3 separate regions of the Homo sapiens genome follow, and regions 2 and 3 are each linked to region 1. The links come from fine-mapping of genetic effects on gene expression. A gene starts in region 1. Each other region holds a variant in brackets. All regions are shown on one strand. Distances are between the middles of the regions. Region 1 holds the start of ADAMTSL4 (ADAMTS like 4). Region 2 holds the start of MINDY1 (MINDY lysine 48 deubiquitinase 1). Region 3 overlaps LOC124904410 (a long non-coding RNA gene).

Region 1 (5,533 bases):
TTCTCAGAAAGCAGAAGTTACTCATCACTTCCCCTGCCCCTCCCAGTGGTCCCCTTTCCCTCACTTCCAGACACAGAGCCATCCCAGCACCTCCCCTTTTCCTCCCCCCCAACCCGTGGCCCCTTCTCTCACCTGCCAGTCCAGTTCTCCATCGCTCCCCCTCTACTGCCCCAGGGGGAGGCAGGAGCGGACTGGTCACAAAAACTACGCAGGCATCTGGGCGTGGAGGGTGCTCTCTGCAGGGACAGAAGCCTGGTGGTTACCTCTCCAGTGTCCAGAGAGCTTGGGGCTGGGAGGACAGCTCAGAGAATATGGAGGAGGGGGTGAAACTGGTCCATCCCTTTAGGATCCTCAGGGTGGGAGCAGGGAGGATCACTGCCTTGTCCATCTGTAGAGGCTACATGGTCAGGGGCTGACCTCAGCCCTCCAACTAAGGCTCAGTCCCCACCTCTGGGCCCTGTAGGGGCTTCTTAGCTCCTCCCCAAATCCTACCTAGGGACTGTTTCTAAGCCGGCTCAGGCACACACAAAAGGCTTTTTTTTTTTTTTTGAGATGGAGATCTCACTCTGTCATCCAGGCTGGAGGGCAGTGGTGCCACCAAAGCTCATTGCAGCCTCAAACTCACAGGCTCTCCTTCCTCAGCCTCCTGAGTAGGTGGGACTACATGCGTGCACCACCACACCCAGCTAATTTTGGTATTTTTTGGTGGAGATGGGATCCAGCTAAATTGCACAGGCTGGTCTTGAACTCCAGGCCTCAAGCGCTTCTCCTGCCTTGGCCTCCCAAAGTGCTGGGATGACAGGTGTGAGCCACCGCACCCAGCCAGAGGGCTCCTTCTAAAATGGTTGTCATCTGCTCCCACTCCTGCCCTCCCAGAGGTGCCTAGAAAGTAGAGGAGGAAGGCTCCACTGAGGATGCGCCAGACACTCTCTCTGAGGACCCACCAGAAGCCCCTTCCTTGGGTCTTCCAGACACAAGACCTTCCCCAGTCATCTCTCTGTCCTACTTGCCTCCCGGCTTTCTCTTCCCTTCTTAGATAAGCTCTTTAGGGAACATCCAGGCACATCTCATACACTTTTTGGCCAAGGGATAAGCTAAATGGGTTGACGGTTTAATCTCTAGAGAAGAAGCCGGCAATGTAACACCCACTCTGGGTGCCAGCATCTGGAGTTGGTTCAGTGAGGGCTTGTTTCCTGTGCGTCTCTACCAGCTGGGGAAGCGGGAAGGAGAGGTGCAGCCGGGGCTGCCTCATGCCCCAGCCACAGGCCTCTCATTCTGAAGAGCCGGGAAGTCCATCTGAAGTTCAGCTTTGAACACTGGAGAAGTGAGGCTTGGAAGCCACCCCAGCCACCAAGCCTGACTCTCTTTGCCCCCTTCTTCTCACTTTGAGTCCTTCCCACCCCTGCTCCTCATCCCACTCTTAGTTCTGCTTTCCAGGAAAAAAAAAATCTGTTTCTGTTGGATCTGAAAGGCACCCGGGAGAGGAATCCAGGGAGCCCTCGCATTGCTGAGGTGGGCCAGCTCTGGGGCAGAAAATGACCAAGAGAAGGGTAGGAATGTGCCTGGGGGCAGACACTCAGCCCCACTGCCCTCCCTGAGACCTAGGGTTCGGAATTTGAGGGAGGGGTCAGAGTGGCTGAGCCAGAGCGGGCGCCTCAGGGATTGGGGTTGGGGTGGGGGTTGCCGATGGCCACTCCTTCCCCTGGCTGGGCCGGCCACTAAGGTCAGCAACTCCACCCTGACTGAACGGGGGAGGCCAGGATCTCCAGAGAAGGGCCCATGTTCCACCCAAGTCTTCAGGCTCTGCCTGACTCTTGTTACTCCAGCTGAGGGAAGAAGAAATGGGGTGATAGTCACTGCCTGCCCCTTCTCTGATGCCGACCCCTCTTCATGCCCTCTCTGCCTCTGCTTCTCTCTGCCACCGAGATCTCTTCTCGCAGCCCCTCTCCACGGGTCTACCCAGTACACATAATCCCATCCCGAGCTGGGTTTGGCTTTGGCAGTTCCCTGGAGAAGTGAGGGGTGGGGGTGACGTGAGCTCCCGGGGCCCGGGCCAGGCCTGGCTCCCTCTCTGGAAAAGTCCCACCCCACCCTCCCCTGCGCAGCCCGGCAGGGGCCCATGCCCCCTCCTCTGCAGAAACACACGCACATTTATGCTTCTCACCCCTTTCCATGTCCCTCATTTGGTGTCGTTCCCGGCCCAGGACGAGGAAAGGAGAGGTCAGAGGTGGTCACTCTGGTGCCAGAGTAGACCCTGGTCTGGACAAACGCGGGCTCCTCCTGGCCACACCTCTCCACACTGCCCAGTGAAGACCAAGGAACAGAGACCTGCGCAGGGCTCACCCCTTCACCCCCAGGTCTCCCTGCTGGAGAGTGGTTGGACCCTGTGTTTCTGGGCCTAGCCATGGAGAATCCCTGTCCTGAGTCCGAATTCCCGGGCCCTCAGAGCCCTCCACTCCTGGGTCTGGCAGGCCACCCCAACAGGTGTCTTTCTTTTTTGTCAACCTCTTCTGCCATCGGGCTGAGCTGGATCAAGGGCACCCACCTGCGTCCCTCGCGGCGACCCTGTCCTCCAAGTTCAGGAGTGCAGTGGGGGACACACCGTCCGAGAGCACCCTCCTAGAGAGAGGGCAGGAGGCACCGGCCGCGCGGGGAGGTCATGGGTCTGTTTTCCAACTTTACTATGTGACTTAGGAGGAATTTTGGTTCACTCCCCGCCCGGGTGATGGGGCCAGAGTTCCACGGGATCAGACTCCCTCCCCAGGAATTCGACCCCAGGGGCTGGAAGATTGTCCGAGGCCACCGGAGCTGGGTCCGGGGTCGTGGCGGGGTCGCGACCGCACAGCGCAGGGAGAGGGGACGACGCGGGCGCGCGGGGCGGGCGGTCTAACGGGACCCGGGAGAGGGGCGGCCGGGGCCGGGGTCCCGGGGAGGTCTCTACCTGCTCTGCGAGCCCCCGGTGGCCCGTTAACCCTTCTGCGCCCAGGCGCTCTCTCCAGGCAACCTCGCTCCGCGGCGGCCACTGGGGCCCCTGAGCCGCGCTCCGGTCACGGCCGCCTCGGCCGCAACTCCGCCCTCGCGCCCGCCCCCGCCCAGCCCCGCCCGCCACGCGCCCCAGCCCGCGCCCCTCGGCGGCCCCGGGGTGGGGCCGGTCTGCCTCGCAGCCCCACTCGCCAGGACCACCCACCCCGGGCTGCGCGCCGGGCGCCCCCCGACGGCTGCGTGAGCTGAAGCCCGGGCTGGCCCAGCCGGGGTCGGAGGCTGCAGTCGCTCCCGGGCGCTGTCCTCGTGCCCGGCCGAGACTAGGGACTTAAGCAGCCCGGGCTGGCCCAGCCGGGGTCAGAGGCTGCAGTCGCTCCCGGGCGCTGTCCTCGTGCCCGGCTGAGACTAGGGACTTAAGCAACCCGGGCCTCCGAGCCGCTCGGGTGAGCGGTGCGAACACGGCGCGGCGCGGCGCGGCACAGGCGGGGCAGCCTCCAGGGGCGCCTGGAGCGAGGCGGCCTGGGAGAGCCGCTGGTCCGGGAGGGAAGCGCCCTGGACGGAGGTACCCGCGGCCCCCGATCCGCGTGGGTCCAGGCTCTCCCCTCCACGCAGCCTCCCCTGCAAACTCAGTCACTCCTGCCTCTCCCGTGTTGGGCAGTGGTGGTTCAGATTGCTGGGACTTCTATGAGCTTCGGTTTTTTTCCTCAGTAAGGTTTTACACTCGGGACTCAGCGAAAGGACAGCGTGCTGACTTCTGAGTCAGACTGATCTGGATTTGAACCTCAGCTCCAGCTCTTGCCAGCTATGTGGTCTTCGACGAATACTTCCACCCCTGTGTGGTGCAGTTTGCTCATCTGCAAAATGGGACTAATCTAATATATATGATGGGCTTGGATATGTCTCTTTATGCATTTATACATGGAAGAATGCACCCCAAACTCAGTAGTATTGGTGACATCTGGGGAGGGATGCAGGGTTGGGGGAGGACTGAAAAAGGCTTTTGCTTTTTACTCTGCGTTATGTTTATTATTATTATATTATTATTTATTTATTTTTTTTGAGACGGAGTCTCACTCTGTCGTCCAGGCTGGAGTGCAGTGGTGCTATCTTGGCTCACTGCAAGCTCCGCCTCCCAGGTTCACGCCATTCTCCTGCCCTAGCCTCCTGAGTAGCTGGGACTACAGGCGTCTGCCACCACGCCCGGCTAATTTTTTGTATTTTTAGTAGAGACGGGGTTTCATCGTGTTAGCCAGAATGGTCTCGATCTCCTGACCTCGTGATCCGTCCGCCTCGGCCTCCCAAAGTGCTGGGATTACAGGCGTGAGCCACCGCACCCAGCTATGTAATGTTATTTTTGTGAATTTTTTTAACCACAAGAGCAATCCATCTATTAGTTTTATCTTTTTTTTTTCTTTTTTTTTTTGAGATGGAGTTTCACTCTTGTTGCCCAGGCTGGAGTGCAGTGGCGCGATCTCGGCTCACTGCAACCTCCGCCTCCCAGGTTCAAGTGATTCTCCTGCCTCAGCCTCCCAAGTAGCTGGGATTAGAGGCATGCGCCACCATGCCTGGCTTATTTTATATTTTTTAGTAGAGACGGGATTTCTCCATGTTAGTCAGGCTAGCCTCCAACTCCCGACCTCAAGTGATCCTCCTGCCTCGGCCTCCCAAAGTTCTGGGATTATAGGCGTGAGCCACCGCGCCTGGCTATTATTTATTATAAATAATATATGTAAGCTGGGCATGGTGGTGAAAGCCTGTAGTCCTAGCTACTCAGGAGGCTGAGCGGGGAGGATTGCTTGAGCCCAGGAGTTTGAGGCTGCAGTGAACTATGATCGTGCCACTGCACTCCAGCCCCTGCGACAGAGAGAGACCTCGTCTCAAAAAATAAACACATAAATAAATAAAATATGTAAAATGGCTGGCATAGAGTAGACAATAAATGGTCACTGCTATTTTTATATTTTACTTTTTTTTTTTTGAGAAGGAGTCTTGTCCTGTCACCCAGGCTGGAGTGCAATGGCGCCATCTCAGCTCACTGCAACCTCTGCCTCCTGGGTTCAAGCCATTCTCCTGCCTCAGCCTCCTGAGTAGGTGGGATTGCAGGCACGAGCCACCACGCCTGGCTAATTTTTTGTATCTTTAGTAGAGATGGGGTTTCACCATGTTGGCCAGGCTGGTCTCGAACTCCTGACCTCATGATCCGTCCGCCTCAGCCTCCCAAAGTGCTGGGATTACAGACATGAGCCACTGCTCCCGGCCTATATTTTTACTTTCTATTTACTGACGCGTTGTATTTTGTTGGGTCTACTCAGTGTTTTAAAGGTTTTTGTTTGTTTGTTTTTTGTTTTTAAGACAGGCTAGTTTCAAACTCCTGGGCTCAAGAAATCCTCCTTCCTTGGGCTCCTAAAATGCCGGGATTACATGTGTGAGCCACTGGGCCCAACCTAAAGGCACATTTTTTTTTTTTAAATAACTTGTCAATACGTATTTTAAAACCTGGATATTTTAAAATTTCTCTTGAAAAACTAAAACACAAAAATAGAAGCTCTAA
Region 2 (5,533 bases), 460 kb before region 1:
AGCACAGGCGTGTTGGATCTCCTGCCTGCTCTGCCAGTTCTTTTCTTCTTCTTCTTCTTTTTGAGACGGAGTCTTGCTCCGTCTTCAGGCTGGAGTGCAGTGGCAGGATCTTGGCTCACTGCAACCTCCACCTCCCGGGTTCAAGCGATTCTCCTGCCTCAGCCTCCCGAGTAGCTGGGACTACAGGCATGTGCCACCATGCCCTGCTAATTTTTGTATTTTTAGTAGAGATGGGGTTTCACTATGTTGGCCAGGTTGGTCTTGATCTCTTGACCTTGTGATCCGCCCGCCTTGGCTTCCCAAAGTGCTGGGATTACAGGCGTCAGCCATCGCGCCCAGAGCCTGGGGCTTCTACCACACCCTCTGCACTCTACCAGGTGCACAACCCAACCAGTTTCATTTCTAGACTTAAAAATGATACAGCAAGGACTTGGAAAGGAGCTCTCTGGAGGGCTCCAGAGGGAAAAGAGCTGGGTTTGTTTGTTTGTTTTTAACATTAATTGAGTAATACATGCAAATATCGTGCTCTTTGCTCCTGCTTCTGTGGATCCAGAGCAAAGGACTGCCATACCCAGAGAGAGAGCCCAGATCCAACAAGCTGCTTCTGTCCAGCCCTTCTCCTCCCTACTTAGCAAGGGCACTTGCTCTTCCCTATTCTCACCAGAGAGGCACAAGCGCTCCGTCCCTTCTAGAGGCAGGCAGAGGGAAGAGAAAGGGTCTGTTGTTTTTCTCTCCTGTTTCTCGCTCCCTCTCTGCTGATCACAAAGCTGCTGACCGGGTCAGAAAGTCCTGATGGAAATCCACCAGCGCTGGGCAGGCCCCTCCTCCTCCAGGGAGCTTGTCCTTGCCTAATTTTTCTTCGTCCTGATGAGAACAAAAAAGAGAGAGAGAAGAAAAGAAAAACCACAAACTTCCTTTGAAAACCAGCTTGTAGTCAGGGCCCGGAGCGCATGCCATAGACTCGGCGACTCAGGAATCCTGAAGACTCTCTGAGCGACCTGGAGCACCTTGGCTGTGTCCCTGCCTGCCTTCACCCTCCTCCAGTGCCCCCAGTACTGGGCGTGAGTCCGGAAGTGGCCACAACCCAGCCTGGACCGTCGCTTATAAAGCTGTGTAAACCTGTATAAGCTCAGGCGTTGACAGCTGGAAGGCAGCTGGCACTGGCAGCCCCCTTCATTGCACCTATCTCCCCCATCTCATTGCCACGGCTGAACCCTCCTTCTCAATCTTGGAACAGCACCCCCTTCTTTAAGGTAAAAACTTTATTTTAATCATCTTCTTCACCTCTTCTCCCACCCTTCTCTATTTCCTCTCCAGCTTTGGGGAGCTGACACCTGCTGTCCTTCCACCTTTGGTCTGCAAGTCTGGATTGCTTAGAGGAGCTAAGTCAGGAGAGACATGTAAAGGGGATGCTGCTTGGTCCTCCTCCTTTTAATGAAAGCACGAAACCTTCCCCCTCTCCTTGTGAGCAAGTATACAGGGCACTGTGGCCATGGTTGACATATTCTGAGATGAAAATCTAAACTATTGATTGCACAAAGACATAGGTCAGACTAAGAAGGAGATTGGTGTGAGACAGTAAGGGAACTGTTCCTACAGAGAAGGAGTGTCTTCTTGAAGCTACATACCTGTTTTACGTGCTTCTTCCAACTTTCGGCTCTCTACTGCCATTGATTAGGGAGGAGCCAGGATTATTTTAACTCCCTCACTCACCACCATAATTCCAGCTGGAGAGAAAGTGTAGGATTTGACGAGCTAAGAAAGAGGAGGAAAAGAATGAAACTTTGATTTATCTGACTATCCTCTCCCTCATTCTTTCCTACTCTGAAATACTCCATGCCCTCCCCAGCAGGATTGGACGTTGTAGAGTAGAAAGCCTCCATTACATTTCCTGCCCCTGCCTCTTAAGACTTAGCCCATTTAGCTCTGCCCAGTTCCTCTGAGACCCCACTCCCTCAGGTGTCCACTCCTGGGTTCCTTTGGCTCACCTCTCCAGCCAGCTAGCTGCCCAACCCCCACTTCATCATTGATCATTTCTGGCACTGGAGAGAAAATATAAAAAATAAGGCCTGCTTTTCTTTTTTTTTTTTCTTTTTTTCTTTTTTTTTTTGGAGGCAAGAGTCTCACTCTTGTCACCCAGGCTGGAGTGCAGAGGCACAATCTTGGCTTACTGCAACCTCCACCTCCGGGGTTCAAGCAATTCTCCTGCCTCAGCCTCCTGAGTAGCTGGGATTACAGGTGCCCGCCACCGTGCCCGGCTAATTTTTGTATTTTTAGTAGAGATGGGGTTTCGCCATGTTAGCCAGGCCGATCTTGAGCTCCTGACCTCAGGTGATCCGCCCGCCTCGGCCTCTCAAAGTGCTGGGATACAGGTGTGAGGCACTGTGCCCGGCCAAGGCCTGCTTTTCTTCAAGCTTTTTCACTTTTCCAGGCTCTGGCATCTGCTTTGAGGTTCACCCTAAGTGTCATTTAAGGGGAGAAGGAAAGGAGAGAGAGAAAGAGAGAGAAAAAAAAGCATAAGGCCTGCAGGCAATTTTTGCTACTCTGATTCTAAATTAACAACACGTAAATGATATGCAGCTAGCATAAACATATGTGAATCAAGAGGATAATCAATTTGAGTGACTAGGCTTATTTTGTTTCAGTAACTTTAATGTTCCTCAACCTCATCTCCCAGGCCTTCCCCTAGCCCCAAATTCCTGTAGGTTTACAAGAAGGAAGCAGTCTCAGGCTGGGAGGAGGGTGGAGAAAAGACAAGATTTCTAACTAGTTTAATTTATTTTATTTTATTTTATTTTATTTTATTTTATTTTATTTTATTTTATTTT[ATTTTT/T]GAGATGGAGTTTCGCTCTGTCACCCAGGCTGTAGTGCAGTGTCACCATCTCAGCTCACTGCAACCCCCTGCCTCCCAGGTTCAAGCAATTCTCCCACCTCAGCCTCCCGAGCAGCTGTGACTACAGGCACGTGCCAACACACCTGGCTAATTTTTGTACTTTCAATACAGACAGCGTTTTGCCATGTTAGCCAGGATGGTCTCGATCTCCTGACCTCAAGTAATCTGCCCGCCTCAGCCTCTCAAAGTGCTGGGATTACAGGCGTGAGCCACCGCGCCTGGCCCCTAACTAGTTTAATTTCTCCCTGTTTCTCTCCCTGATAAAGAGTGGGAGGGGAGCAAGGAGATTGAAGGGAGATGTTTTCCAAAGGGCAGGATTTGTGGTTTTTTATTATTTATACCCACAGTATTAGTTAAATGTCTATCTGTGCTTGCCTCAATGTGCCTCCAGTGCTGATAGAGAACAGGTTAAACAGGTCCGGTGTTCACATCTAAAATGACCTGGAGAGGACTGGGCACGGTGGCTCATGCCTGTAATCCCAGCACTTTGGGAGGCCAAGGTGGGAGGATCACCTGAGGTCGGAAGTTCAAGACCAGCCTGACCAACATGGAGAAACTCCATCTCTACTAAAAAATACAAAATTAGCTGGGCATGGTGTTGCATGCCTGTAATCCCAGCTACTCGGGAGGCTGAGGCAGGAGAATCACTTGAACCCAGGAGGCAGAGGTTGCAGTGAGCCGAGGTCGCACCATTGCACTCCAACCTAGGCAACAAGAGCAAAACTCTGTCTCAAAAAAATAAAAATAAATAAATAAAACCACTTGGATGGGAATAGACATAAAACTTTAGGTAGGTGAATGTACAGGAAGTATTGTTATGTAAATTAATAATCAGCATTTTCATATTTCATAGAAATAGCAGGCAAGAGAGTACCTCTGGGTTTAGGTAGTTTCTGGGGAAAAAAAATGAACTGAGGAAAAGTTGCTGTCTCAATGCTAGCTGTCAAGAGATGCTTACTGGGTCCAGGCACCGTGGCTCATGCCTGTAATCCCAGTCCTTTGGCAGGCTGAGGAGGGCGGATTGCTTGGGCCCCCAGGAGTTAAGACCAGCCTAGGCAACAAAGCAAGACCCTGTCTCAGTTTAATTAAAAGAAATTTGATATCTTTATTAATTTTTTTTAAAGAGAAGCTTACTGGAAGAACTTGTGGGGAGTGCTTTTTGTGCCCCTAATCTGAAGTTATTTATCAAAACCAGTCTCTGATTCCAGCCCCCACCACCTACATTTCCCCTCCCAGCTTACAGGAAACCCCTCCCAAGGCCTTTATACTGTGGTTTGGGATTGTGTAAGGTTCAGTAGAGCCCTTTGAGGTGGAAGACTTCCCCTTCCTCACCAGCATTTCACCTTTAGGGGCATGAAACTGACTCTCTGTGCCTCCTCCATTCTTCACCCCAAGTACTATGTGACTTAATCTTTTTATCCTTGGGTGAGGCAGAGAGAAGGTATCCCTAAACATACAAGCACTGTGTATTCTTAGTATGTTGTGTGAAGGGGCAGGGTGTGGGGTAGGGCAGAGGAATTATCTCTGTCATGGCTATGAGGGGGTTACTGATGTGATGCCTATTAGAGTAAGCTAAAGATCATCATATTAATAACCATTAGCGTAGATTTAACATTTCTTTCTCCACCTCTTATCCTTCTTTCTCCTTTGTGCTCTCCCTTTCTCTCTGTCTTTCCTCCCTTCCCTGTCATGATCTGTTTCAGGGAAGCTGACTCCACCCATGTGTTCAATCCCACCAGTCTTCCCTCCCAAGTCTGGAAGCCCCACGACCTCTTGGTCTCATCTGGTCACAGCAAGTTAGAGGTGGAAAGAGCTCAGCACGGGGCCCTTCTGTTTACACATATACTGCCCATAGCCAGGAGTTACTGCACAAACACTAGCCAGCCTTCTACACTACATTCCTTTTCCAAGACTTTTCTGGGTTAGTTTGCTTTCCAGCCCACTGATTTCCTTCTTATTGGACAGGTCACTCTTTTGCATCCCAAGCCTGGCTTAGGCAAGTCCCTGAGGTTAGTAAACACCTTCAGTGCCCCTCAGCCAAGTCCCTTTTGACCATGGAATACCATCAGCCTGAGGATCCAGCCCCTGGTAAGGCCGGGACTGCAGAAGCAGTCATCCCTGAAAACCATGAGGTTCTGGCAGGCCCAGATGAGCACCCTCAGGACACAGATGCAAGAGATGCTGATGGGGAGGCTAGAGAACGGGAGCCAGCAGACCAAGCTTTGCTGCCTAGCCAGTGTGGGGACAACCTTGAGTCCCCTCTGCCTGAAGCTAGCTCAGCTCCACCGGGGCCAACCCTTGGGACACTGCCTGAAGTAGAGACAATAAGGGCATGCTCCATGCCCCAGGAGCTTCCTCAGTCCCCCAGGACCCGACAGCCTGAGCCAGATTTCTACTGTGTCAAGTGGATCCCTTGGAAAGGAGAACAGACACCCATCATCACCCAGAGCACTAACGGCCCTTGCCCTCTCCTTGCCATCATGAACATCCTCTTTCTTCAGTGGAAGGTAAGAGAACATGCAGTTAGGGGTGCAAAAAATATCAGGGAGTACTCTTCCCTGACTTACTTCCTTGATCATCCTGATGTCCTCAAACTAGTCAAAACTTTTCAGATTGTTCTCCCTATTTCTCCAGCTTGAG
Region 3 (5,533 bases), 960 kb after region 1:
GGATAAAGAAAATATGGTACATATATGTCATGGAATACTTTGCAGCCATAAAAAAGAATAAAATCATGTCCTTTACAGCAACATGGATGCAACTCGATGCCATTATGCTAAGCGAATTAACACAGGAATAGAAAACCAAATACCACATATTCTCACTTATAAGCAGGAGCTAAACATTGAGTACACGTGGACACAAAGATGGGAACAATAGAAACTGGGGACTACTCGAGGGTAGAAGGAGGGAGGGGGTAAAGGTTGAAAAACAACTACTATGTCTAGTACCTGAGTGATCGGATCAATCATGCCGCAAACCTCAGCATTACACAACATACCCATGTAACAAACCTGCACATGTACCCACTGTATCTAAAATCAAAAGTTGAAATTATAAAAAATAAAAAAATAAAATCAACAATGTATATTTCTCTCACACAGCCATCACGATGATGTATTTGGAATAAGATATGCATAAGTATGTTCGTTGCAGTGTTGTCTGCAAGGACAAAGTGAAAACAATCTGAATAACCAACAATATGACACAGAGTAAGTAATTATTGGTACGTCTGTACAATGCCTCATGCAATCACCACTGACAGCGTGGGAAAGAGAGACATCTATTATGAAAAGACCACTAAGACATATGATTACATGATAAGTGCAAGGTTCATGAATAAATAGCATGTATACTAGTATAGCATACTTCTTTCTAAGAAAGAAACCATAACACATACAAGAATGGACAAGAAGTTATTAACAATAGCTAACTTTGGTGATAAGACTGTAGGTTGTAAAAAGCCAGACTTTCATTTCTCATTTTAAACCCAATGAATTATTTAAATCTAACCCTACTGCATTCATTATCTTTATAATAAAATAAATATGTATAACAATGAAACATAGTTTTTAAGTATTTGGGACATAAATTAAACATTAATAGATTACACCTCTTAAACTTGGTACTTTAGTATCCCATCTCTCTGTGAGAACTCTGAAAGCTTCATCTTCCACAGTTTAGGTAATTCTTTGGTGTCTTATTTTGTTATTTTCTTGCCCTGAGATTAGCAATGTCAGATCTCCAAACTGCTAACTCTTCTCTTTGGCAGATCAAATGCTTCTTCTTAAAAAAATTAAGTTTTTAAAATGTATTTCATAGGATTTTTGTTCTCTCTCTCCCTCTTTTTGTGCATATGTGTGTGTGTCTGATTAGTCTTTATTATCTTAAAATGGTTAGTCCTGATAGACCTGTTTCTTCAAAATTTCTCTCAGTTCTTTGGCAGTTTGCTCTTAGCTTATAATTAAAGATCAATTTCTGACTTGTCTTGTTCTAGAAAACCTCAATGGAAATTACAGCAAGCTGAATAGGATATTAATTAAAAACATAAACCTGGTGAAACCCGAACATAGAGGCTCCAGTTCAAAGATGCTTCCAATAGTTGACATGGCCCTTCATTCCTTAAAACCAGCTATTTTTCTTTCGAATTACATTACCTTTAATTCTGTAAATTGGATGTTATATAGTACCATGAAAACTGCTGTGAGTAATTATAATACTCATTGCTGAGTGATGTGACTTCTTTCTCAAGGCTATTTCTGAGGGAAATTGTACAATTAGATCTTTAGGTATTGTGACTTGTTTTGGAAATCATGGTGGCCCTCCAGGGAGCTAATGAATCTTTAATTATTTAGAGGTTCACATGAGACCCCTTACAGATATAAGCACATTAGCTCTGTAGCTAAGGGAACATTTAAAAACAGTAACATGAAATGTGTCAGACATAGAGGAAAGATGAAGAAGCAAGTAGAAGCTAATGCAAACAGAGGAACTGCCAGCTCTCTGTGGCACTCTAGCTCTCTCTGTCAGTATTTGGTTGGCAATGTAGACATAGTGGATGAGTGCAATTACATATGTTAGGCTCATTCTGAAATGCAGGAGCATTTTAGATTTTCATGTAGAAGCCTGACAAGCAAACTACATCTAGGATATACTTTGATAACTTTGAGTTGAGAGCCAAATTTTTTGAAGGTAAACCATCTCCCTGTTTTAAAGTAGTGTTTAAAATTATAAAAATTTTAATACATCTGTAATATAAAATATTTAGCTATAAATACTACAAGTGCAAATGAATCTTTTTTTCTACTTCTGCATTCAACTTTTCTCTTCTCCCTTTAGGGAAAACACTTTTGTGTAAAGGCCTCCAAAATATATGTAGAGGCGTATGTATGTTAAAAACATGTATACATATAATGCATAACCAAACAAATGAAATATCCTAAACATATGGACCTGAAAATTGCTTATAATAAATTTGAACTGAACATATAGGCATAAATGTGGTTCAGAAGTGTCCAGTTGAAGCAACTTCACTTTGTTAGGTCAACAAAAGTTGGGGACACCAAGATCTACTCCTCTGATTTTGTTCTAGCATTATCTTAATGGAAATGTTTACTGAAATGGAAATACATGTAGTGGACATCGTGGTGGTGTCTCAAGCATTCAGTGTTCCCTGCTCTCACACACTCCTAACCAAATAATGAATTTCTCAGCTTCACAATGTTTAAGTGACATGAGTCCCATGCCCAATTCTTGGTCATTGTAATTGGTGCATGAAGGAACCTGTGCCTTCTG[C/T]TAATCAAATCAGAATGAAGTACAACTTTTTCATTCCATGATTGAAGGGGTAAATGCCTTCTTTCCAAATGCAGCAGAGGAAGCACGAGGTACTAGGATTGGAAGTTGTCTACTCATGACATGATATTTTAAGCCATAGAATAAAACTGAGACCTAATGTCTTAGTCCTTTCAGGTCGCTATACCAGAATATCACAGCCTGGATGGTTTATGAACAACATAAATTTATTTCTTACAGTTCTAGAGGCCAGGAAGTCCAAGATCAAGGTGTCAACAGATTCAGGGTCTAATGAGGATTTGTTTCCTGGTTCACAGACAGCTGTCTTTTTGCTGTGTCCTCACATGGTGGAAGGGGCTAGGAAGTTCTCTAAGGTCTCTTTTATAAGGGCACTAATCCCATTCATGAGGGCTCTGTCCTCATGACCTAATCACCCCCCGAAGACCCACTGCCAAATATCATCACACTAGGGATTAGATTTAAACATACAAATTTTGGGGGACTACAAACATTCAATCTATATCACTTAAGGTAGAGTGAAGAAACAGGGAGGACAAGAAGCATTTATTTTGTGTCATTATTAAACTTCTGCATTAAACTATCTTGAGCCTATACTATTGTTCAAAATCTCTTTATTATACAAGCCATTTTGAATTTTGATTGTTTGCAACCAAAATTAACCTAATAAGTTAAAATGTACTATAATGTTACATCATAATTTGTCTGTACTAGTAGTATTTGCTAGAGTGTTTAGGGGAATACTTGCTTGTTAACTTTTTAGTAAATATAACACTCCATGTTCAAATACATTTGGGAAATGCTGAGCATTTCACACTTTTAGAGACTCAAAACAGGCAGCACATTTTTAAAAAATAAAAATAAAACCAAATAGCATTGCATTTGGAGAATGGTACAAAAAAAGAGAATTTGATAAACCGGAGTTATCAGAACTCAGTGGATACTATGTGTTAGACATTATTATAAGCCATTAAACATTTTACAAGCTTGATACCTGAGTTAAAAATTAATAACCCAAAGACACATTGGAAGAGAAAAGTTGACATATTTTTATTATATTAATGACCTAAAAATATCATAGCAACTAACGTCATTATAGTCAACAAGTGAATGAACGTAAATAATATTAAATAACTATTAGAAAGTCTCTCTGATTAAGCATGGAAATAAATAGGCAGTGCTTTTGACCAATAAATGGAGGACTTACAATATTTTCCAATACAAAACAAAAACATTCTAAATGTGAAGGTATTAGGCCCAAAATATGTTAGTCAATTCATGACAGCAGAAATTCAGCAGGTCATATTTTTGGGGTAATGTAAATGACAATAGAAATCATGGACTAAAGTGTAACAAATAAGTAATATCTAGGCAGGTGGAAATTTTAAGATCTTTTAAATTAACTTCTGGACTATAGCAAAAATTCAAACTAAAATTCATCAGGGAGTCAGGGAAGGTCAAATGAAGAAGCATGGGGATTGAGGCAAAAACCCTGAATTATACCAATATTATCTTTTTTTTTTTTTTTTTTGAGACAGGATCTTGCTCTGTTACCCAGGCTGGAGTGCAGTGGTGCAATCATAGTTCACTGCAACCGCAACCTCCTAGGCTCAAGGGATCCTCCCACCTCAGCCTCTTGAGTATCTGGGACTACAGACCCTCATCACCAAAACACCCATCTAATTTATTTATTTTTTGTAAAGATGAGGTCTCACTTTGTTGCTCAGGCTGACAAGTATTATCTTAATGTTATAGAAAAAAAGTAATTCTGGCCATATATAGGTATTATTCTTTGCAGTGGAATATCATTTCAGAAATTTGTGCCAAACATAAAATTAGTTTTCTAGTAGTAAAAAGTAATTAAACTCTTTAAATTATTATTACCCCTAGTATACTGGGGAATGGGTGTGTGTTCCAAATGAAAAAACTTGGGATGTCTAATGAGATGCTGTTTTCTGTCGCAGAAAATCTATGTAAAATGTTTTTTCTCACGTGTACACTGTTGATATTTGAGACAGCACATGTTAACACTTCAAGAAGTAAAATAAATGTGTTGATTATATCCACAGTTTTCATATTTATTAACTACATATTTCATTTTTAATGTAATGCCTGTTGAAAAACCTGTAAATAGTTGTTTCTTAAAATTGACATATACTGCCTAAGATTTTTCTGTATATTTTCATATTTCAATTTTCCTGTGAGGTTAGAATGAACACTTTTAGCTAAGACATTTGGGCCTCCAAATCCTAAACCTTTCAGAATGTTAGTTTATTATTTGGTTTTTACCTAAATTATTTTCTGCTTATTCAAGAACCTTAGGTCTATCCAGTTACATTTTTATTTTTTTATTTTTATTTTTTTATTTTGAAACAAAGTCTCACTCTGTTGCCAAAGCTGGAGTGCATTGGCATGATCTCGGCTCACTGCAACCTCTGCCTCCCAGGTTCAAGTGATTCTCCTGCCTCAACCTCCCCAGTAGCTGGGATTACAGGGGCATACCACCACACCCAGCTAATTTTTGCATTTTTAGTAGAGATGGGGTTTCACCATGCTGGCCAGGCTGGTCTCAAACTCCTGACTTCAGGTGATCTGCCCACCTCAGGATCCCAAAGTGCTGGGATTATAGGCGTGAGCCACCATGCCTGGCTGTATCCAGTTACATTTTTAAGACCAGCCAGGCTTAATATATATTTGGTCTTTAGCTCAATTCAATTTGTTGCATTTTGTCCATTGTACTTCATGTGACACAGAATATATCTTAATTTAAAAAGACATATGTTTGTTGAGCTATCTGTTACGCTGGTATATCTTGGAATTTTAAAAAATATAAACCACAGAAGCCAATTATGGCTGACATTAACAATAAATAGGTTTATCACAGAAATAGTG

The links. PIP is the estimated chance that this variant, and not a neighbour inherited with it, causes the effect.
Region 2: its variant is fine-mapped to the expression of ADAMTSL4 in whole blood (INTERVAL, PIP above 0.99).
Region 3: its variant is fine-mapped to the expression of ADAMTSL4 in cerebellum (GTEx, PIP 0.95).

Annotation. Positions count from the first base shown.
Region 1 is chr1:150,546,908-150,552,440 of GRCh38, reverse strand. It overlaps ADAMTSL4 (ADAMTS like 4), which reads right to left and starts at 3,033. Exons shown (of 19, transcript NM_019032.6): 1 at 2,942-3,033; 2 at 2,546-2,619; 3 at 133-236. The coding sequence starts at 152. LOC124904417 reads right to left here and starts at 2,151. Exons shown (of 1, transcript XM_047438226.1): 1 at 1,091-2,151. The coding sequence starts at 2,151. The coding sequence ends at 1,381. ADAMTSL4-AS2 (ADAMTSL4 antisense RNA 2) reads left to right here. Exons shown (of 6, transcript NR_187269.1): 6 at 3,691-3,877. MIR4257 (microRNA 4257) reads right to left here and starts at 512; the gene lies at 427-512. RefSeq lists enhancers at 1-648, 1,138-1,827 and silencers at 3,163-3,302, 3,473-3,622, 3,554-3,848.
Region 2 is chr1:151,002,032-151,007,564 of GRCh38, reverse strand. MINDY1 (MINDY lysine 48 deubiquitinase 1) reads left to right here and starts at 663. Exons shown (of 10, transcript NM_001376665.1): 1 at 663-1,253; 2 at 4,859-5,400. The coding sequence starts at 4,948. RefSeq lists enhancers at 758-937, 1,168-1,427. The variant ATTTTT/T (reference allele first, on the strand shown) is at 2,829.
Region 3 is chr1:149,585,971-149,591,503 of GRCh38, reverse strand. The region is part of intron 1 of LOC124904410 (a long non-coding RNA gene); the gene reads right to left. Among named protein-coding and RNA genes, the nearest start is that of PPIAL4C, 4.9 kb to the right of the region's middle. The variant C/T (reference allele first, on the strand shown) is at 2,627.